Linked DNA regions of Homo sapiens. The protein of the gene in region 3 purifies or fractionates together with the protein of the main gene of each other region. This does not show direct contact. Each region holds a gene or a part of one and is shown on either strand. Other genes may lie near its edges.

The links.
Region 1: the proteins of VWA2 (region 3) and WDR73 purify together in Homo sapiens (affinity purification with mass spectrometry; one large-scale study listed by BioGRID and IntAct). This does not show direct contact.
Region 2: the proteins of VWA2 (region 3) and MTR purify together in Homo sapiens (affinity purification with mass spectrometry; one large-scale study listed by BioGRID and IntAct). This does not show direct contact.
Region 4: the proteins of VWA2 (region 3) and CCZ1B purify together in Homo sapiens (co-immunoprecipitation; one large-scale study listed by IntAct). This does not show direct contact.
Region 5: the proteins of VWA2 (region 3) and TCP11L1 purify together in Homo sapiens (affinity purification with mass spectrometry; one large-scale study listed by BioGRID and IntAct). This does not show direct contact.
Region 6: the proteins of VWA2 (region 3) and RIC8B purify together in Homo sapiens (affinity purification with mass spectrometry; one large-scale study listed by BioGRID and IntAct). This does not show direct contact.
Region 7: the proteins of VWA2 (region 3) and CCZ1 purify together in Homo sapiens (affinity purification with mass spectrometry, with the first as the bait; one large-scale study listed by BioGRID). This does not show direct contact.

The regions. Positions count from the first base shown.
Region 1 is NC_000015.10:84,638,785-84,641,534, reverse strand, and holds the end of WDR73 (integrator complex assembly factor WDR73), read left to right. Parts: 3' UTR 1-2,250; downstream 2,251-2,750. UniProt on the Homo sapiens protein: Component of a multiprotein complex required for the assembly of the RNA endonuclease module of the integrator complex. Associates with INTS9 and INTS11 in the cytoplasm, stabilizing the INTS9-INTS11 heterodimer and blocking the active site of INTS11.
Region 2 is NC_000001.11:236,850,792-236,854,291, reverse strand, and holds part of MTR (methionine synthase), read right to left. Parts: intron 1,772-3,500; coding exon 1,655-1,771; intron 1,345-1,654; coding exon 1,204-1,344; intron 1-1,203. UniProt on the Homo sapiens protein: Catalyzes the transfer of a methyl group from methylcob(III)alamin (MeCbl) to homocysteine, yielding enzyme-bound cob(I)alamin and methionine in the cytosol. MeCbl is an active form of cobalamin (vitamin B12) used as a cofactor for methionine biosynthesis.
Region 3 is NC_000010.11:114,291,254-114,294,989, reverse strand, and holds the end of VWA2 (von Willebrand factor A domain-containing protein 2 precursor), read right to left. Parts: 3' UTR 501-3,736; downstream 1-500.
Region 4 is NC_000007.14:6,809,276-6,812,775, forward strand, and holds part of CCZ1B (vacuolar fusion protein CCZ1 homolog B), read right to left. Parts: intron 2,789-3,500; coding exon 2,677-2,788; intron 1-2,676.
Region 5 is NC_000011.10:33,070,572-33,074,050, reverse strand, and holds the end of TCP11L1 (T-complex protein 11-like protein 1), read right to left. Parts: intron 1,578-3,479; coding exon 1,375-1,577; 3' UTR 501-1,374; downstream 1-500.
Region 6 is NC_000012.12:106,886,182-106,889,681, reverse strand, and holds the end of RIC8B (chaperone Ric-8B), read right to left. Parts: 3' UTR 366-3,500; downstream 1-365.
Region 7 is NC_000007.14:5,924,892-5,927,050, reverse strand, and holds the end of CCZ1 (vacuolar fusion protein CCZ1 homolog), read right to left. Parts: intron 1,420-2,159; coding exon 1,364-1,419; 3' UTR 684-1,363; coding exon of another isoform or gene 503-683; 3' UTR 501-502; downstream 1-500. Other genes in the region: RSPH10B (radial spoke head 10 homolog B), read left to right, coding at 503-683. UniProt on the Homo sapiens protein: Acts in concert with MON1A, as a guanine exchange factor (GEF) for RAB7, promotes the exchange of GDP to GTP, converting it from an inactive GDP-bound form into an active GTP-bound form.

The DNA.
Region 1 (2,750 bases), on a different chromosome or scaffold from region 3:
CTCAAAAAAAATAAAATAAAGATAAAATCATAAACACTCATAATTCAGTTATACCTTTTTTCAAGTAACTAAAGTTCAAACTTACTTAGGGGAACAGGCTTTCCTGGGTGCCACCTGCTTCTCAAGTCCTGTGCTTTCCACACCACAGAATAGTAAACTGGGTGCACTGAGTGCCTGGTTCCCCTCAGCCCTTAACCAGTGCTGGCTTGTCCGAGTTTAGAATCCCAGGGCTGACTTTGTTGGTGGAATGCTAGCTCCCATTCATTTCCCACCTGCACTGGACGTTTTCTGAATCTCCTTGAAGTCCGGGAGATCTTCATTCCAAAGCTCTTCACTTTTCTGCAGCATTGTGACCCCATCTGGCTGGGGAACTGGAAGTCCTGCTCAGAGAAAAGCAGGAGGGGACATGGAGTTCTGAAATTCACTTTCTGCTCCCATGTCTGGAAGTGACAGGTGAAATGAGAATGATAGTGCCTCTCAAGAAGGTCTAGTTCCCAGAAGAGAAAGTTTAATGACTCATTTTCCCCCTTTTACTCCTTTGAGGGTACAGGATAATGCCCTTATCTATTTTCATAATAATTATAATGATGATGATAATGAAAACTAACGTTTGCCAAGTGCTAATACTGTGTCAGGATCCTCATAACAGCCCAGGGAGGTAGAAACCATCACAATGTCCACTGTCCAGATGAGAAAATGGAGGCTAAGGGTATTTAAAGAGGTTGCCCAAGAACAACAAACCTTTTAAATGGCAGACTGGTGTGTATAATCTACGCAGGGTTCACATCTATGGAACACTTTATTTTAAATTCTTTTAATAATATTATTATTTTTCAGCTGAGTCTGGGTCTCACTCTGTCGCCCAGGCTGGAATGCAGTGGCATGATCACAGCTCACTGCGGCCTCCAACTCCTGGGCTCAAGTGATTCTCCTGCCCCAGCCTCCCGAGTAGCTGGGACTACAGGCTTGCGCCACCATGCCCGGCTTATAGGGCACTTTAGATGGAAACAAATGACTGGATCTTTAACTCCTACCTTTCTCTCCTCTCTTCCTGTAATGTTGTTACTGAAGGCAGGAAGGGAGACTCCTTGGCTAAAGAGCAGAGCAAGAGCCTCAAAGTGGTCTTTGTGAGCCACCCTGGACTACTGGTTCAGTAGAGGGTTGAGTCAAGCAATATTTGAGGACGGGATATAAACAGTATTTCTTAAAGTTGTCACCAATTTTTCCCCCGATGAGGCCATTCCAGACCCAAATTAGTCATAACAGAGCCAGGACAATAATCACATCTCCTGATTCTGAGCCTGAATGCTTCCCACAGGACTGCGTCGCTCCCACTGCTCTGAGGTCCATTGTGGGGGAGAGTTGCCACTGGGATTCCACCTCAAGGCCTGGGGACCAAGCCTCCAGGATTCCTCTTGAGACTCCTCCACTATTTCATTACCATCCCGCCACATCTTCTAGTGCTATGCCCTGGTTCCCTTTGGAATCCTCTCAATCCCAAAGAAGGCCTCCTACCACCTCTAAGGCATCAAAGGTGTTAGAAAGTGCCCCAAGACTCAACAGGGCATCCATCTCATCATAGAAGACACTGGTGCCTGGTGTGTAGGTGCTCCTGGCTTTGCAGTAGTCGGTCAGGAGGTTTTTGAACCGATAGCAACATTGCTCCAGGGTCCACAGGAAGCCATGTTCTCACAGCTGCTCAGCCATAATCCGGTACACCTGGTGGTTTCGATGGCAGGTGCGGAGTTTTTCGTGGATCCAGGCCTCTGAGAATTCCCAGAAAAATCTTGGTTTCTTTGTATCCCCAGTGCACTCCTGCCACCTTCTCATCCTCCAGGGCCTGCCACTCCAGCTCGCTCCAGGTCTTGGCTTTTCTCCAGATTAGCACCTGGCCAGACTTGACTCTCACCCCAGCCACTGAGCAGTCTTTCACACTCTCTTTTTCTCCAGAATTTGAAGATCTAGATGCTGTGGGTTTTCATCCTACTCCACGTGGGAGTTCACTTTGGGCCTATGGATTGGAAAATCTGTTTGCAGGCAGACAAAAGGGAGATGTAATGGTTTGGTAAATCTAATCCCAACCATTTTATATGCCAGGGAGAGGAGATAGTAATTTTTTTTTTTTAATTCTGGGGGGATTCTTGGGAAAGCTCAGTGAAAAGAACAACTAGAAAAAAAAATTCAGGCCCAAATGCATAACTATATATCCACGTTCATCTATCTTAAATAAAATTCAGACACATACCTAAACTGACCATCTCCCTAAAATGAGCTTTCCTTTCTGGGTCAAGAAATTCATCCTTGGTGAAACTGACTATGGTATTGGATTTCCTTTGAGTAAGATTTAAGGAAGAAATAGATTTGAAATATTCAACCCAGGGGGAAAGGGTGGGAGCAGGGGGGTGAGGGATAAAAGACTACACACTGGGTACAGACTGAGGGGATAAAAGACTGCACACTGGGGCCCCGTGGTGGCTCAGGCCTGTAATCCCAGCACTTTGGGAGGCCGAGGCAGGCAGATTACTTAAGGTCAGGAGTTCAAGACCAGCCTGGCCAACATGGTGAAACCCCATCTCTGCCAAAAAAAAAAAAAAAAAATACAAAAATTAGCTGGGCGTGGTGGCACATCTCTGTAATCCCAGCGACTCAGGAGGCTGAGGCAGGAGAATCACTTGAACCCGGGAGGCAGATGTTGCAGTGAGTCAAGATCATACCACTCCACTCCAGCCTGGGTGATAGAATGAGACTCA
Region 2 (3,500 bases), on a different chromosome or scaffold from region 3:
GTGTGAGCGTTGGCACAGTGTCTGAACTCCTTTCAGCTTTGTTGAGCCTAAGGCTTCCATAAGCAATTTCAGAAATCTAAGTCTTACTACCAGTAAGGCTGATAAAACAAGGATGTGGTTAATCTCATAGTGTCCTATCCTTCTTCCAGAGCATTTTATTACTCTTCTGTGGAAGAGGCAAAGTTGGCAGTTCTATCAGAGCTAAATTCAGATTCTAACATGGAAAACATTAACAAAGTTGGCAAGAGACACAAAAGCATCCTACCACTTTCTCAACATGCTTTGTGGGAAAAATATCTTCCTTTGCCATCATTCTCTTAAACAGATTAAAATGCAAGTTCTTTTGAGGTAAAGATCTCAACTTTCCTTAAACTGAATTCTAAGAAGAACCATCTACGATAGATACTTCATGTGCCTAGGACTGCGCCCAACATATAAATGAGAAACAAGCTGGTGTTTGAATTAGCTATAATTATACTCATTTTTTACACATCAAATGTGCACAGACCTAAGCCTTGAACTGCAGAACTTTGCCACAGATGGACCAGATCCTAACATAAACAGGTATACAAACCAAAACATGGAACAGTGGGGACCATGTAACACTAACATAGCCACACAAGAAAATCCAGAACAGCTATTTTAAATAATGAGGTAGAAAAATATCAAGTAAAATGGAAATATGTTCCCAGTACACTGCTAAGAAAAAAATATTACCATAAAAGCATCTAGAGTATAGTTCTATTTTTGTAAAAAATGTATGTATATGTACCTATGCATGCATATTCATTTTGCAAAAAGAAATAAAAACTCCCATCACTTAAAGGTTATAACAAAATCTCAAGTGTTTAACTTTGGGTGGTAGGATTACAAGTGATTTTTATTTTCTTCCTTTGCTTACCAGAATTTTGTAAATTTTCTAGAACTAATATGTTACTTGGTACAAGAAAAATTAATTTTACATTTTACAATAAATTTAAAGAAACCTAAGTTCAGAATACGGAAGCACCCTAGGCATGGTCTGTTTACCCTTCCTTGCCCTAGCTACACCACCATCTCTGCAACTCTCTGTAGAAATCTTCAGTGATCCAAATATATGATTCGATATTTGCTTCTATTCCACCATGAAGGTCTACTAACTGTAGGTGAGTAATACATTCAAAGATAGGAAAAATCCATCTATTAGAACACTTGTCTCTCTACCTGGGCATAACGTAAGAGCTTCTCAGTGGCCTCAGGGTCTTTATTCCAGATGAGATCTTCACAGAGCTGCAGAAGTTCCTTATGGATATCATCATACACAGGGAGGTTTCCAGCATTCACTATCCCCATGTCCATGCCAGACTAAGGGCAATACAAATAAAAATGAGAATTTACAGTGATACCTTAAGTCAGCGATCAGCAAACTTTTCTCTGTAAAGGGCCAGAGAGAAATATTTTAGGCCATAGCCTCTGTCACAGCTACTCAACTTTGTAGTTACAGCATAAAAGCAGCCACAGACAAGATACAAATGAATAGGTGTGGCTCTATCCCAATAAAATCTTATTTACAGAAACTGGCAGCAGGCCGGACTTAGCCTGCATGCCACACTTTGAAAACCCCTGCCCCAACTAAAAACTGGTTTCCGCAGGGCTAAGAGTTCTTCTACCATACCTTGATTGCATGGTAAAGGAAAACCCCATGCATTGCTTCTCGAATGGCTTCCATTCCTCGGAAGGAGAAGGACAAGTTGGAAAGACCTCCACTTATTCTGGCTCCAGGTAATGTTTCCTGGCAAAAATTTTAAAATATGAAAAGATTCCCCTTTTTTGCCAAAAACAGCAATCACATCTCTTAAGCTTTATATAGGAGTGGAAAGAAAAAAAAACAAAAAGCATCCGAAGTTCAAAGTAATTCAGAGCTTCTTGTTACTAGACATAGACCAAAGCTTGCCGTATTACAGTATTACAAAGGCGCTGCTTCGTAAGTAGTTTTTCCTACTAGACTCCAATCTCCCTAAGGAGAACACGCGCGTACACACACACACACACACACGCAGAAAGACAAAGAGGAATTCCTTATTCACTGAAAGTACAAATTACTAGAAGGCTTCCATAGCCTAAATGAACAGACTCCCTAGTTCACTATGAACTTGACCGACTATAAAAGGACAAAAGGAAATTGAAGTTCCAACCATACCGATGACAGTATCAAGCATCATCAGGCTTGTGGAATAACAGGAACTTTCACTATTATTGGCTCAAGAATCTAGGGAGACAGTTTGTCATTATCTACTACTATGAGCCAACCACTTCTGGGTCTATGCTACAGAGAAGTTCAGGCATGCATGTCTAAGATACATATATAAGAATACTCAGAGCTGCATTGTTCATAATGTCCAAAAGCTGGAAAAAAACTAGATGTCCATCAACAATAGAACAGTTAATTGTGGTATAGTTATACCATAGAATATTATACATTAATAAAAATGAACAAACAGCTACAGCCACACAGATAAATCTTTAGTATGGAGTAAGAAAAAAACATAAAAATATTACGATTCTATTTTTATTAGGCTCAAAAGCAGGCAAAACCAAACTATATCATTCAGATATTCAGTCAATTCTTACTATTTTGTGGTAGTTATGTTCTTTAAAGTCACTGCAAACACTGAATTAGGGAATACCAGAGCATTGCTCCTAGGAGAAATACAGGGCTAGGTTCCTATGAGCCTCTGATGACATTTTTGTCAACCAATCAATACATAACCTTGTTTTGTGCATGTATGTTAAGATGCTGTATCTAATATTTACTGTTGATTCATTAAGACTGAATTCACAGCCAATGGCACTATAATTCATGTCTGAACAAAGCTTATCTAACACACATATTTCCTCCCTAAGGAACATCACAGCCTTCTTGTGCTTAGAACACTAGACAGCACTAGTATGGGGCCATTTTAAAAAGTGACCTCACCAACAAAACGCATAAAAGTGTGAAAAACATGGCATTAGACTGCAAAAAGGACATCTGTGTACAGGATGAGAGCTGAAATAAGAAGGTAGGTCACTGCCATGTTTGCCCTCTTTGGGAATAATATGGGTTGGGCCACTCAAATTTTCCACCACTCTGCATATGGGTAAGTCTGAACAACTGCAGAAGTGACGTTGAGTATTGATTTTGGGGTCACAAATAAATTTCAGTAAGTACATGAATTTGCAAATATAAAATCCATAGATGATGCAAATCAAATCTACATATATAAGCAATAAATTTATGAAGAAAAGCAACAGAGTAGCGTCATAAAACTCAGGACAATAGCTACTTTATAAAATTGAGAATGAGGTGTAACTGGAAAAGGAGAGACAGACGGGGGCGCTAGCTATGCTCTATTTTGGGACCTAAGTGAAGGCTCTTATATGCTTCATAATTAATTATTTATCAGGTTCTGTGGTTTTTTTGTTTTGCATCATTTTGTTCAAGGCAGGGCCTCACTCTGTCGCCCAGGCTAGAGCGCACT
Region 3 (3,736 bases):
ATCTCTGCCTCATTTCTGGAGGGTTGTGTATCAGTTCTCTAACACTTGTTCCTGAGAACTAAATGTCTTTTTTATTCTTATTTCCTCTCTCATAAACATTTGGTGACCTTTTACCAAGTGGTGAGTTAGTTAGGTTTTTTAAAATAAAATGTTCATTGTATTTGAAGTTTTCCTCAGTTCATGAAATGACTTGGGGCAGGGCCTGGGGGGTTCTCAAGGGAGGAAATGTTTTGGTTATTTACACACTGAACTACAAGATGGGATCCTAGCAGGAAACTCAGCCTCCTTGAATCAAAGAGCATAGATAAGGCTGAAAGCAAATTTTAGTTGTACAGTTAACAACATACCAAAGACACAGGAAACATCTGCAGAAATTGATCATATATAAGTGAATGAAAAATCAGTACTCCTCCCAGAAGTTAAATATACTCCTAAAGAATTCTTGGGAAAAAAGAAACATACCAATACTGGGAAGGTTGCCTAAGTAGTAATTAAGGAAGTTTATAGCATAAATGTGTTTATTTTAAAAATGACAAAATCAAAATCGGGTTCATTAAAGAGACAAATAGACAACCTAAGGCAATATGAAATAGCAGAACTGAAATGGAGGCCTTAATACAGATACTGACAAGATTTTTCAAATTATAAAAAAATACTATGAATATATCAGTGTAAAAGTTTGAGAAATATGTATTTTCCATTATAAGGTTAGTATAGCTCTGATACCAAAAATTCAAAACAAATTGCAAAAGAAAACAAATCTCATTGTTGGACACAGATTAAAAGAATCTGAAATAAGATGTTGGCAAATGAAAAATTCAGCAGGGTTTATAGAATGATGCATAATGACCAAATAGAGTTTATCCAAAAAAATCAAGGGTTGTTCAATGATTGAAAATACACAAATGGATAACCTATCACATTAACAGATAATACAAAAAATGCATTATCTTGAGGAAGAAAAAGCATACCATAAATCTCAACATGTAATAAACACTCTTAGTTCATCTAGGAATTAAGCATTCTTAAACTGATAAGTAACCCATAGAAAACAATTATTATGATGAAAAAGTCAAGAACCAGATATGGATACATGCTACTTCATGAAACATTATTCTGGAGGTCCCAGGCAATGCAAAATGACAAGAAAAAGAAGTGGTATACAACTTTGAAAGGAAGAGACAAAACTAGCATCATTTGGAAATATTTCTCTAGAAAAGCAAGAGTCAATTATTAGAACTAGGGTATTCAACAAGATGACTGGAATCAGGATCGTTCAGAGAAAATAAGGAAATTTATGGCCTATATGCAATGTTTTAATTATTGCAAGGAAAATATATTTCTGTCTTATTTGAATAAGTAATTAAAGGTAAAAATTAAAGCTAATTTCTTTTAAATGAAAGAAAAAAGGCTTGGCTAGTTAGGCCATAGGATAGCACTTTCCTGGGGGACTGACAAAAGCTGAACTATTTAGTGGCACTGTCACTACAAAAGGGGAAAAAATGTTTCAAAGGCGAGAAACCCATTTCCTACAAAGAAACAGTAAAGGCCCTTACTATGTAAGTCGAGAGCCCACAGTTTGCTGTTTAAATCCAAGTAATTCAATCAGGGCACCCAAATACCAGCCCGGAACAAGACAAAAAGCCTACATTATAACATGGTTAAACTGCTATTTAAAGACAATGCATTCATGTAATTTCTATGACATCACTGATCAGCATCTGCTAGGGAGCATGTGATCCTGCCCCGGACGTTGTCTTCTGTGAAGGGCAGCATAATAACAAAGTTATCAATGAAAGTATCCCTTGAATATAGATGATTATGACTCAATGTCTGGTACACCAGACTTTTTAATATCTAAAATCTTGGTGATACTGCTTCAAGCGCTTTTCTAGCACCAGAAATCCTGAAGTTCTTAAAGCCAAAGTACCCTTGAATGTTTGTCTATAAAACATTATGTTACAATATTTATAAAGAAAAATGGGCCAGGCACAGTGGTTCACCCCTGTAATCCCAGAACTTTGGGAGGCCAAGGCAGGGGGATCACCTGAGGTCAGAAGTTCGAGACTAGCCTGGCCAACATGGTGAAACCCTGTCTCTAACTAAAAATACAAAAATTAGCTAGGCATGGTGGCACCTGCCTCTAATCCCAGCTACTCAAGAGGCTGAGGCATGAGAATCACTTCAACCTGGGAGGCAAAGGTTGCAGTGAGCCAAGATTGTACCACTGCACTCTAGCCTGGGCAACAAGAGCAAAACTCCGTCTCAAAAAAAAGAAAAACGATAAAGTGTCTGGAGTCACATCAGAGCTCTAGAAAGATTTCTACAGAAAATCCAACTCTAAACAACACAACCAAGGAGAAGAAGTAATTCCTAAATACTGCAGCGATAGGGAAGTAAGTATCTAGTTTGCCAGAGAATATTCCAAATATGCCTCTTTGCCACATAGGTACAAATATCCCTGTTTAATAAATAACCAACATTTCTTGAAATATTTCTTTAAAAACTGTGTAGAAAAGCAAAGCAAAACAAAATTAAAACCTAGACAGCGTAAGATCAATGCTTTAAAAAGCAAAATCTCTGTAAGTTTCTTTATCCTATATTTTTGAGTTTAAGAATCTTACTTCTCTTTGCCCCACTAAAAGGAGAATAAGGAAAGAATTCCATAAACACGCCACAATTAACCCCTCCTAAGTACATTTTTTTCTTTTTGAGACAGATTTTTACTCTTGTTGCCCAGGCTGGAGTGCAGTGGTGAGATCTCGGCTCACTGTAACTTCCGCCTCCCAGGTTCAAGCCATTCTCCTGTCTCAGCCTCCCGAGTAGCTGGGATTATAGGCATCCACCACCACCCCCGGCTACCTTTTGTATTTTTAGTAAAGACAAACTTTCACCACGTTGGCCAGGCTGGTCTCAAACTCCTGACCTCGGGTGATCCACCTGCCTCAGCCTCCAAAGTGCTGGGATTACAGGCATGAGCCACAGTCTCTGGCCGCAGCCTCTTTTGAAAGGAAGACCCTTCAGGTGGACACTGCTCACGACTCAGAACGATTTTACGTGGCCCCTCCAGACCTGGGCCCATTGCACACTCAGCCCCTCCCCCATCATCAAACAAGCTGGTTAATTGGTCACATTTCAGTCTGAGACCTTTCCAAGTCTCTTCCACACACAAAAGGCAGTCGCCAGAAGTCACAAACGTCCCTCAAGCCCCCTTTCAGACTCAATGCAAATGCATCCAGAATGTCTCTGGGGAAGTGGAAAAGCTGCTGCTTTCCATCTTGAAAGGCCGTGGCCTTCGCCGTCCAAAGGATGCTCTAGTAAAGGCCTCTGCTGGGCATTACTGTGTCAACAACATTCTGGCGAGCATTGATTGTGTGCAAAGGAACGTCAGGCCGCTAAATTTAAGTCTTCAGGACCCCTTGTTTATCCTCAAGGGAAAGGTGGCAGATGACATAGCCTCAACAAGGCACAGCAGGTACAGAAAGTGGGTATTTACTTACACATCAAAACTTTTCAACAACATCGTTTGTGGGTGACATCAGCTGCTTTCTTGTCTCTAAGCAGCATGGCTGCAGTTGGGACATCCTCCTCCCTCAGTGAGAATAGTGGTCCTGGCCACGGCGGGAAGCAGACATTCTAAGGACCTGGGGCACAGACATTCCAGAAGGTAGGCACCATTTCAGTGCCCAGGCCTTCTCTGTAGTTGCTGGGAGGGGTACGGCTGCTGCCCTCCTGC
Region 4 (3,500 bases), on a different chromosome or scaffold from region 3:
CTCATGAACTTTGCAACTAGAAATCACTGAACTGTACATTTTAAGTGTAGGAGGGTGAGTTGTATGGTACGTGCATTGTATCTCAAAGTCATTAAGAAAAAGGTAAGGACCCTTTAACATAGCCACAACCCCATCATCACACCCCACAATATGTCTGTAGATTGACTCTAAAAATAGAAATGCAGCCGACAGCATATTACACACCAGGGTTATGGAGATTTCAGTCATTACCTGGGTCATTCAAAGGAGGATGATTTTTTTCTTGAGATGGGGTCTCAAACTTTCACTCGATACACAAACGGACATTCTTCCTACTCCAATTCCTGCTCTGAATTACACCTCCAACATTTTGGTTTGCTTTTTCAGACCACATCTTTCTGTATGCTCTGCCTGCAATCTCCCCTTCCCTGCCAGTCTGTCACAGCCCAACTTTAAGTGACTCTCAAGCACACCATGTGATGAATGAAACATCTTTTTATCTTGGCGGCTTGAACCCTAGAGCCCTCCCTCCTCCTGCTGTCACGGAGCTGCTGGAGGTGGGGTGCCGCCAGCAGACCTGAAGAGCCTTATCACCCCAAGATTTCCTTGTACCGTCTCACACATGAGAACTACTGTTCTGGATTCCCAAGTGTTCCTTCTTGGTGTGCTCACTTATTCTGCTGACGGATGACCCTGTGTAACACCCTCAGGAAGGGTGCATGACGGTAAACTTTTTGAGGCTTTTCATGTTGAACGTGTTTTTTTTTTTCTTTCTGAGACAGAGTCTTGCTCTGTTGCCCAGACTGGAGCACAGTGGCGTAAGCTCAGCTCACTGCAACCTCCGCCTCGCGGGTACAAGTGATTCTCCTGCCTCAGCCTCCGGAGTAGCTGGGATTAGAGGCGTGCGCCACCTCACCTGGCTGATTTTTTGTATTTTTAGTAGAGACAGGGTTTCCCCATGTTGGCCAGGCTGGTCTCGAACTCCAGACCTCAGGTGATCCGCCCACCTTGGCCTCCCAAAGTGCTGGGATTATAGGCGTGAGCCACCATGCCCCGGCTAATGTCTTTCTTTTGTCTTATCTGTGGTTGACAGCTTGGCATGGCAAAGAACTCTATGCTCAAATTCATTTTCTCTCAGAACTTTGAAAGTCTCTCTTCCACTGTCACATAATGTCTGGTGCTGGATATGAAACTGTTGATACCAGTTTCATTATTTTTGAGAGGGTTTCACTCTGTCACCCAGGCTAGAATGCAGTGGTGTGATCATAGCTCATTACATCCTCCAACTCTTGGGCTCAAGCGGTTCTCCTGCCTCAGCCTCCTGAGTAGCTGGGACTACACATGAGCACTGCCATGCCTGGCTAATTTTTAAACATTTTCCTGTCGACACAGGGTCTTACTATGTTGCCCAGGCTGGCCTCCAACTCCTGGCCTCAAGTGATCCTCCCACCTTGGCCTCCCAAAGTGCTGGGACTGCACCTGGCCCATTTCAATTTTATATTAATAGATACAACTCTTCTAATTAGTGGATACTAATTTTTAAAGTTCTCGTCTGTCCTCGGAATCATGTTTCTTTCGAGACCTCTAGTTTTGTTTTTGCAGCCATATTTAACAATGAGGGAACCAGAAGGCTGACCAGAGATGGAGGCTTCACTCTGAGTGTAGGATGAAGGTCTCAGTTCTGTCTGGAAGAAAGAAATGCCAGAATGAGCAGGGCCTCATTCTCAGGGGCAGACATCCACGTTAGCCACTCTGGGTCTCTTCAGACTGTTTCCTTTCTTTAAACAGACCCTCGATTGTCACCCAGGGATGGATGCTCAGCCGTGGGCCTGTCTGTGCAAGGATGGGGGAAGGGGAGGCTGACTGGCCTCTCTGCCACACTTCACTTCCCTTCCCCACCTTTCCAGGCCCAGGCCCCACTCTGACTCCTCAGGTGACCTCCTCCAAGTCAGGAGCCTCTCTGGGCTTCCACAGGGCTGTGGGTCCTTGCCTTAGCACAGGGTTGCCACTCATATTCCAGGCCTGCTCCGGCACCGCCCTCTATCAGGCATGGTTTACAAGTCCCGTCTACCTTCCAGAGAGGGACAGGACTCCCTCATCCTGACACATCCCGCTCCTTCCTGTTCCCCCACGGCATCATTTCTGAGCCTTTATAAATGAAAACTTCTCCACAGCCTCAGGCAGGAAAGAGGATAAACACGTGCACATGCTCCGTCTTCTTTCTTGAATCAAAAACTGCCTTTAATTAGAAACACAACCTGAGTACATATCCTTACAAGACCATGTCCTGACAGAAACAAAATACGATCCTTATGGAATTAGCAAGCCTACAGCTTTAAAATCAGAGCAAAAGCAGCATATGCACAGACACGTGGCTACGGCCCCCATCCAGAGCCATTTCGAGAACAGGCAGCACCAACCTCTGACAGCCTTTGGTTTGAGAGCACGTGAGACTTCACACGTTTATAAATCACAATCTTAAACAGTTCCTCTTTCACTAATAACAGAACTGTTTAAAAGGAGCTGAAAATAAACTTATTACGCTGGAAGAACACCCATTTTGAGTTTTACCATAATCAGAACTTCCAATATCTTTTCCAAGAAACATTTAAGAGGTTTGCACATGCACTCGTGTACACATGCAAGAAAGATCCATTTCAGCACAATCATTAACGCTGGAAGGAAAACAGTTGTTACCTTATAAACGATTAAATGGAGCTCTTCATAAGTGTCATCTGTATTTACAAAAATTTTGGGGAATCTGCATTTTGCATCTGGATCATTGAGGTTCAAGGGTCCGGTAAGAAATCTTAAAAGCAAGAACAGACATGACTTGATTCAACGAGGTGAAGGAGAATCAGGAATCTAGAAACAGAACACACTCCCACTTCATACACACCAGTTGCTTTTGATGCCAGCTGCTATTTGGCAAACACCATATCAGAATAGGCCGGCTGGGCGTGGTGGCTCATGCCTGTAATCCCAGCACTTTGGGAGGCTGAGCTGGGTGGATCACCTGAAGTCAGGAGTTCAAGGGCAGCCTGGCCAACATGGCAAAACCTCATCTCTACTAAAACTACAAAAATTAGCTGGTTCTGGTGGTGGGCACCTGCAATCCCAGCTACTAGAGAGGCTGAGGCAGGGGAATTGCTTGAACCCAGGAGATGGAGGCTGCAGTGAGCTGAGATCGTGCCACTGTACTCCACACTCCAGCCTGAGCGACAGAGAGACACTCCATCTCAAAAAAAAAAAAAAAAAAAAAAAAAGGGTATGCTGAAGTAAGTTTTAACTCATTGGAAACAACAAACTTTCCTTTGTTGATTACTGTCAATCAGATGGCACAAAGATATTTCAATGTCCATATTATCTTTACCAAAAAGATAATAGGCCAGGCATGGTGGATCACACCTGTAATCCCAGCACTTTGGGAGGCCAAGGCAGGTGGATCACTTGAAGTCAGGAGTTCAAGACCAGCCTGGCCAACATGATGAAACCCTGTTTCTACTAAAAATACAAAATGA
Region 5 (3,479 bases), on a different chromosome or scaffold from region 3:
GAGATGGGGTTTCACCATGTTGCCCAGGCTGGTCTCAAACTCCTGACCTCAGGTGATCTGCCTGCCTCGGCCTCCCAAAGTGCTGGGATTATAGGCGTGAGCCACCACGCCCGGCTAACTTGTAAGTTTCTCTTAGCTTCCTGTACAGAAGGCTTCAGGTGCCGATATTACTGCATTACTCATACAGTAATATAGTCTTACCCCTTGCTGTTGTGGCAGTTGGTCATTCCAACTTCATGGCTCTGCTTCTAATATAACATCCCTGTCTAAAATGCAGACATACATGTGTACACTTTAAAAAAAAAAAAAAAAAAAAAAAAAGAACAGATCGTCTATGAGACCCAAATCACTCACGCTCAGAGGACATGTCAGGAATTCTGGTCACTGAAGTTCCTTGAAAAATAATGCTCAAACACCAGGGATTTCCTATGACTTCCTCATCTAGGAGATTCGTGAACTCAAGCTATTTTATCTGAAAACAGTTAAATCTAATTCCAGAATTTAATTCAATCATCACATCTGTGTATTGTCTCAGGGTCAATTTTTCAGTAAGAATTCCAGACATTTCTCTTCGTTCACATTACAGTAAACTATTTTTCAATACATTTCCTCCTTGACTTTCAAGGCTTGAAAGTCAAAGACTTTCCTTTCACTAGATCTCATAAGTCATAACTGCTCTCAACCAGATGCAGGAGTAATTTTGTATAAAAGAACAAGCTTTTTAAAGTCCAATAACTGTATCTTTGGGGGAAGGTTAAAAGAATGTTTAAATACAAAAAAGAAAGTAAAAAAAAAAAGAGAGAGAGACAAATAACTCTCCTCTAGAAAAAAGGGCTTGGGAGCCCTGGCTAGGCCAGGCAGGGAGGAAGCAATAAATAGGGGGAGAAAATGGCAATAAGACGTTATATAGCCCTTCTAACAAAAATACCAGAAGGGAGGGGTGAGGGACAAGGCTGTCTGAGGGAGGGCAGGAGGTGAGGCCATGGCTTGGTCTCTTTTGCGCTTGGATGGCCGTCAGCTCAGCATGAGGCATCTGAAAGAACTACCCAGATTGCAGAAGAGAGAGGTCCCAGCCTCCTTGGAAGGACATGATGGGGGAGGAGTGGAGACAACAGCTGAGTGTTACCTGTAAAACTCGAGAACAAAATGCTTCTTTGATTTGTAAACTTGCACTCATAAATACAATCTCTCAAAATAGAATTCAGTGGATTTCTCAACAAGTCTTTTCAACAGTGATACACAATATTCTTCCCTTTGGAATCGGTGCTGTTAAATAGACATGTACTATATAGCCATTTTCCAATGCAACATTAGAGTACAGAACAGGTATTCTGTGGCTAGTGAGTAATACTGCTGCTGTAGGGTGCATACACGTTAGGATCGGACGAGGATCTTACTCAGGATTGCATCGTAGTAGGGACAGAAGACCATCTTGTTATAGTTGACCAGGCGAGCAAATTTAATAGCAACTTCCTCCAGCTCTCTCTGAACTGGACTGAGTCCCCCAGGGACTGTGGGCAATGGCTTCTGATGACCCGAGGCAAGGTAGGTTTCTAAGAAGGTCAGGATTCGAGATTCTGTGACAAAAAAGAAAGTGGTCAGTTGTTTCTTGTCCTTCACCTTACAAACCTTACTGTGCTTCAGTTCTTAGCTTAACCATCACCTCTTAGGGGAAGTTGTCCCCGATCAATACTCCCAGACCAGATACCCACAGCACCTTGCACTTCTGCATATTCATCCCATTTATAATGTTTTCTCTCCCCTCTAGATGGTTAGTTTCATGAAGGTAGGAGCCATGCTCATCTTGTTCATCATGTCTCCTCAGCACTCAGCACAGTGACTGGCATGAGACCCAGCTCCCAGGAGAAGCTCAAACACACTTGGAATGCAAGAATGAATGCATGAGTGGCCAGGCGCGGTGGCTCACGCCTGTAATCCCAGCACTTTGGGAGGCTAAGGTGGGCGGGTCACCTGAGGTCAAGAGTTCGACCAGCCTGGCCATTGTGGTGAAGCCCCGTCTCTACTAAAAATATAAAAAGTAGCCAGGTGTGGTGGCGCACACCTGTTGTCCCAGCTACTCGGGAGCCTGAGGCACAAGAATCACTTGAACCCAGGAGGTGGAGGTTACAGTGAGCTGAGATCATGCCATTGCACTCCAGCCTGGGCGACAGAGCCAGACTCTGTCCCCAAACAAAACAAAACAAAAAAAATGAATGAATGCATGAGTGAGTAAAGGAAGACTGGAGACATGCTCTGCTCTCCGAGGAGCAACACATCCTGAGACCATTGTTAGCCATCGCTGACGATCACATAAAAAGGTGGAAGATTAAAGCAGGAATTACAGGTTCAAAAAAGACTTTTTTCCTACTAAGCCTCCATGAAAGCAGCTCGTGCTTCCTTCTCTGATGCCTGCATGGAAGTCATGGGCATTTGTAAACTTGTCCTACTTGGAGGAATAATTTAGGTTGATGCTTTTCTAGTCCATTCCCCTTCACAATGCTTTTGTACTCTTGTGTATCCTCATGAAAAAAGATTTGATCAAGCCACACTTCTTGCAGATTTTATCACAAAAACAACAGAGACATTTATATGGAATAGACTTTTTCAAACTACATGCCTTGCCTCCTGCCTGGGGAATCCTCTCAGGTGCAAATAACTTATACCCTCCTGAGCCTCACAACACAGACAGAAACTGCTGACAGGACAGGGCCTAACACCCTTACTCTTTTTTTTTCTCGAGACACAGTTTCACTCTGTCGCCCAGGCTGCAGTGCAGTGGCACAATCTCAGCTCACTACACCTCCGCCTCCCGAGTTCAAGCGATTCTCCCCACTCTGCCTCCCGAGTAGCTGGGATTACAGGCGCATGCCACCATGCCCAGCTAATTTTTGTATTATTAGTAGAGGCGGGGTTTCACCATGTTGCCCGGGCTGGTCTTGAATTCCTGACCTCAAGTGATCCGTCTGCCCCCGCCTCCCAAAGTGCTGGAACTACAGGAGTGAGCCACTGCACCCAGCCCTATCACCCTTCTTCTTTTTTTTTTCTTTTTTGAGATGGAGTTTCCCTCGTCTCCCAGGCTGGAGTGCAGTGGCGCGATCTCGGCTCACTGCAACCCCCGCCTCCTGGGTTCAAGTGACTCTCCTGCCTCAGCCTTCCGAGTACCTGGGATTACAGGCACACGCCACCATGCCCAGGAAATTTTTGTATTTTTTGTAGAGACGGGGTTTCACCATGTTGGCCAGGCTGGTCTCAAACTCCTGACCTCAGGTAATCTGCCCACCTTGGCCTCCCAAATGCTGGGATTACAGGCATGAGTCATCACACCTGGCCCTATCACCCTTATTCTTTTTTTTTTTTTTTTTTTTGAGACAGACTTTAGCTCTTATTGCCCAGGCTGGAGTGCAATGGCACAATCTCGGCTCACCACAATCTCCACCTTTCAGGTTCAAGCGATTATCCTGCCTCAGCCTCTCAAGTAG
Region 6 (3,500 bases), on a different chromosome or scaffold from region 3:
TTTTTTTTTAATGCACTTTTCTAAGTCACCTGGCTCCCTCGCTCCCTTCAAATAACTCTTCTTGACAAAAACTATAGTTATCGGGGCACTTACTCTAGCTGTTCTGACTTGTGCTGCCGAGGCTTCTGTGAGACTGTTGCTGTGTGGCAGAGCAAGCCTGCTCCTCCTGGTGCCACCCCTAGTTCCTGCTGCTCTTCAGCACTAACAACTCATGCTGCCTTCTAGAAAGGCAGCAGGCACCACCTTTTTAAATTTTTTTTTTTTTTTATGGGCGTGGTGGTCATGATGTCTTCTGTTAGAAAGAATATTGGGAAGGAAACTAGCAGTGTCTGCCACAATTCACATAATGGAATATCATATAGCCATTACTTTTTGAAGAATATTTATTGACATGGGAAAATGCTCACAATATGTTAAAGAAAGCAGGATACAAATCTGTAAATACAGCATGATCCCAATCTTGTAGTAAAATAAATTATATATGCATAGAAAAAATACAGGAAGGAAATACACTAAAACATTAACAGTGATGATCTCAGGATGGTGGGATTTGGGGTAAATTATTAATTTTATTTTCTGCATTTTCCAAACTTTCCACAATGAACATATATTACTTTTATAATCAGAGGGGAAGAGGTCAATACAGGTGACACCTAGTCCTGGGAGGTGGCGAGACTGATGTGGCACTAAGGGGGTGTTTAGAGTCACTTGTACTGCCTCATTCTGTGTCCTCATTTATAAAGAAGGGATAATAACACCTGCCCTGCCTGCCTCCCAGGACTACTGGGCATCTGAAAGGGTCACAATATCTGGTGATTGTTCCTCTGTAGCAGCAGCTCAAATGCTTTATTTTAGGACACACGCCTCCGTACCCTGCTTCCAAGGTCAGGAGAGTTGTGGGCAGAGAGGCCAGCCTGCAGCCTTGGTCCCTGGCCTATCCTAACGGATTCCAGGTCTTCATTGGAAATCCAGTGCTGACCATGCAAGTTTCCCACTCATACTTCCACTTCAGGTCACTTCCCTGCTTAAAAACCTCTTTAAACTAGTTCTGTTGAAATAGTTATTGCTTAAAATGGCCTGAGAATGACCACCCTCCTCACACCACTCTGTTCCCAGCATTTCAGAGCCCTAAGGAGGCACAGTGTGGGCCCAGGTGTGCTGTGGGGAAAAGGAAGGAGTGGTGCTGGGAGTCAGGCCACCAGAGTTGGACTCTTCCTTGCTGTGACGTGGGGTAACTTTCATAAGCTTTCTGGAGAGGATCTTTCATATGCGATAAGGTGAGGTTACATGAGATAACATACATCAAAAGCCCAGCATGTAGTAAGCACTTAACAGATATTAGTTCTCTTTCTGTGTGCCAGATGAAGACACTCTCATCTTCTTCCCCGCAAACTCTCTTTTCAAAAACAAAGCTTAGTGCCCAGTGCAGAGAAATGCAAAATGAAACAGAACTCACTGAAAGCAGAAGAGCACAGCTACTGAAACAGGACTGTTCAAACACTTACTCTGCATAAAGAAAGCTGGTAAGATGGCATTTCATTAAACACATCTTCATTTAGGTAAGCTGACATGCATGCCAAAGCTATTTGATTATAGAAATTATAAAAATACTTTAAAAATGCATTTGTAGAATAACAAAAATACTTAAATTTTTTCTAAACTTTTCACTTAATCTAAAATTATGAATTGCCCATTTCTTTTGCTGTTGGTTAAAACCTGGGTCACTCACCTCTCCCTCAAACATTTTGGATGAAATTCTAACATCTATTGTCTTCTTCCTACCCTTTTATAAAGCGTTCTGGATTTAATTTCTTCTTTTAAAAAAACTCAGGGTCACCATTATAGGAAGTAGTCTACGGGCCATACTGTTGTACACACATTTTCTGGGTCAACTAGAGTATCCTTTGGTAAGTAGACAGTCCCAGATTTGCTATGTCTTGAAGTTTTATTCTTCTCATCTCACTATCTAGTTTTCAGTTGGCCTTTTTCTTCTTTCAGTATGCCTGCCTTCAATCTAGCAGCCTCTTTCTTTGCCATTCTTTTGTGAGCTTCAAAGCCAGCTAATAAAACATGTTGGAAGCGTATGCAAATTTCAGTTCAGAGTCTAAGAGTGATATTCTTGAAGATCTCTCCCATAAGTAAGTTGCAAGAAACTTTGTGACATCTCCTCTGGCAGCTGAAAGGCCTTTAAGACGTAATTCCTGATTTTTTTGCTTTGCCAGAGAGGTAACTTCTGGATAAATGACCTTTTCAGTAACCCTCCATGTACTCTACCTGTCCTTAAAAAGGCTATTAGAAGTGGGACCATGGATGTAAAAGCACTTTAAAAAAGCATAAACTGTGAAATAGTATTGTTTAGCCCATGTATCTATAAAGAAACACACACAGATGGCCAAATTGAATCAACCCCAATGTTTTATTTAATTTAAAGTTTTAAAAGGCAGTGGTTAAGCACATTATGTATATATGTATATATATGAATGTATGTACGTGTGTATATACATACATATATATACAGGAAACCAACCCCTTTTCAACTTTAGCCACTGATGAGCTAGGCCCACTGTCTAGTGCATGACTCACTTTCTACTTCTTCATAGGACCAATTCTAAAAGTAAAAATAAACACCCTTTATCAGTTTAACAGTAACTAATTGTGTTTCTTTTTTTTAAATAAATAAAGTTACTATTAAACTGATCACATATGGTAGAAACGTAGAACTCACACACACACCAGCACACACAGTCCCCAATTTAAAATGTGATGTATGAATGACCTATATGTACAAATGGGTGCTGCTGACTCCCCCACCCCAAGCAGAGGCCATGAAAGAACTCCCATTACTCAGGGAGTCCCCATTCTCTATGCTGGGATGGAGGATGTGTGTGTTCCTGGCACCCCGGGTTAGACCTCAGAATGCACACTCCCCATGCGCTGATACAGATGGTGGTTCAGTTCTATGGTACTAGTGTTCAGGTACATTAGGGAATAAATAGGCATTTGTAGCTGCCTGAGAACTAAACCATCATTTATAACTCTTTATAGGGAGAAATGTATTCTGAAGTTTTAGCTAACTGACATACAAACTTTTAGAGTATAATCAGTTTGTAAGTCTGAGGCTGTGTGTGTGTTTCTATATATTTATACAAAATTGATATGAAGAATGGGGCTAGGTTTATGGAGCAGCTGCTAGGCTTCCATTTGGTGAGTTCTGATCTAAGAAGTCGCTTGCCCAAGGCTTTATTTACCAGCTCTTTCTGCTTCTCACGTGCCTCTGGCTGCTGGAGAGATTCAGAAGGGGCCACTCACACAAGTGAGGGGAAGGACATGGCTAAATCTTCTGCTAGGGATCTTGGCAAAAAGAATTGCCAGATTCAACCAGGGCCGCTTTATAGAATAAAATCCTTCAGTTCCATCCCGATGAAATGGAATTTTTTTTCTGCTTTTAGCCCCCGTAACCCCGTCTAACTGCAGCTCTGTATGAATGCCTCAATATCACA
Region 7 (2,159 bases), on a different chromosome or scaffold from region 3:
TAATACACACACACACACACACACACACGTAACTTTGGGAGGCCGAGGTGGGTGGATCACCTGAGGTCAGGAGTTTGAGACCAGCCTGGCCAACCTGGTGAAACCCATCTCTACTAAAAATACAAAATATTAGCCGGGCGTGGTAGCGGAAGCCTATAATCCCAGCTATTCAGGAGGCTGAGGCAGGAGAATCGCTTGAACTCGGGAGGCGGAAGTTACAGTGAGCCGAGATTGCACCATTGCACTCCAGCCTGGGCAACAAGAGCGAAACTCTGTCTGTCTCGAGAAAAAATTTTCTTTTCATAGATAGATGAGAAGTTTATTTTGGACTGTGTCGACATGGCATCAGTTATTTCAGGCAGAGTGTAGCAACTTACAGTTTTGTTTACACATGCTGTTGAAATGCAGGTATGAAGGGCTGTATACTATAAATAGCCTAAAACTGGTTTTGCAGTTTGGAGGGGGATAAAAAAAGCTACCACCTTCTCATGTTTGCTTTTAGGCTGAACATCTTCATCTTGAGAGAGGAAGAGGCCAAGAGACATGACTATGAGGTGGACATCACAGTGCTCAAGGAGCCGGCAGACGTGTCATCCTCTCACCTCATACTGGACCCTCCCAAGGAGGATGTGACCGTGTCCCCATCCAGCAAGACCATCACCAGCAAGAAGAAGAAAAAGTAGAGAGACACGAGGACACACACACAGGCTTAGGATGGCACGTGCTGTAAGATTTCCTGAGCATTACAGTTCTTAGCACTGAACTCGTCACAGTGTTTTAACATACCCCTTGGCCCACTGCATCTCAGGTTTCCTACATGGCTGGATTACGGGAGTTCGAGACCAGCCTGGGCAACATAGTGAGACCCCCCCATCTCTGCAAAATTAAAACATCAGCCGACCGTGGTGGTGTGTACATGTGGTTCTAGCTTCTTGGGAGGCTGAGGTGGGAGGATTGCTTGAGCTCAGGAGGTTGAGGCTGCAGTGAGCCATTGCATTCCAGCCTGGGTCACGGAGCTGGTGGCCAGTGTAATCTATAAATAGGCAGCAGGAGAGAGACTCAACACCAAACCAGAATTTTAAAAACTTTTAACAATTTATTAGTCTTATTTTCCAGTAAAATATTCACATAATGTCAAAAGAATGAAATGATAGCGATATAGCCAACTACCTTTAATTAATTCCACATAAATATTTAAAATCTAAAAACCTCAGATCAGCAGACCGAGTCGAAATGTGATTCTTCAAAGCAAGTATTGCTTTACCCTTGTCCTGAATGCAGTCCGTCATATGACCACTAACTTGCATGTGACCAAATGTTTGCAGAGTGTTTTTTAGATATGCTCTCGGTGAGCCGTCATCCGTCAATCCAAGAAGAAGATGTTGTTGAACTGCGTTGCACAAAGTTTCTTGACCTCTTCTGCAACAAGGACACAACAGTGAGGAAGGAAGAGGCAGTCACTTAAAAGGTTACATGATATATAATTAAATTCTTCTTGGGTAAAATTAGGAAGAGAGATTTGCATTGATTTTGACCTTAAATCCCAGAAGACTAGGCAAGAATTTTTTTTTTTTTTTTTTGTTTGAGACAGAGTCTTGCTCTGTCACCCAGGCTGGAGTGTAGTGGTGTGATCTTGGCTCACTGCAGCCTCTGCCTCCCAAGTAGCTGGGACTACAGGTGCACACCACCACGCCCTGCTAATGTTTGTATTTTTTGGTAGAGACAGGGTTTCGCCATGTTGGCCAGGCTGGTCTCGAACTCCTAACCTCAAGTGATCCGCCCACCTTGGTCTCCCAAAGTGCTGGGATTACAGGCATGAACCACTGTGCCCAGCCAAGAAATGTTAACAAGTAGAAGAGGGGAAAAAATCCACCTACAAAACCTACCAGGCCTCAGGAGTTTTGAGCCTATCAACACTGCTGCCCGGGGCCTGAGAAACTGCAAAGTGCCCGGGACACCCAGGGGAGGGGGTTAGAAGCACAAGGCTGGTGACACACACCAAGCACAAGGTTGTCATCCTGGGACAACTAATGGAACAACAAAGAAACGGACAGCAACCTTGAGCTGCAGACCAAGTGCTCCGCAGAGGGGTCAGGATTTTGATCTTACCACATTCACAGTTTAGATCAGGCTTGCATTAACTGATGTTTCTAGTGCGC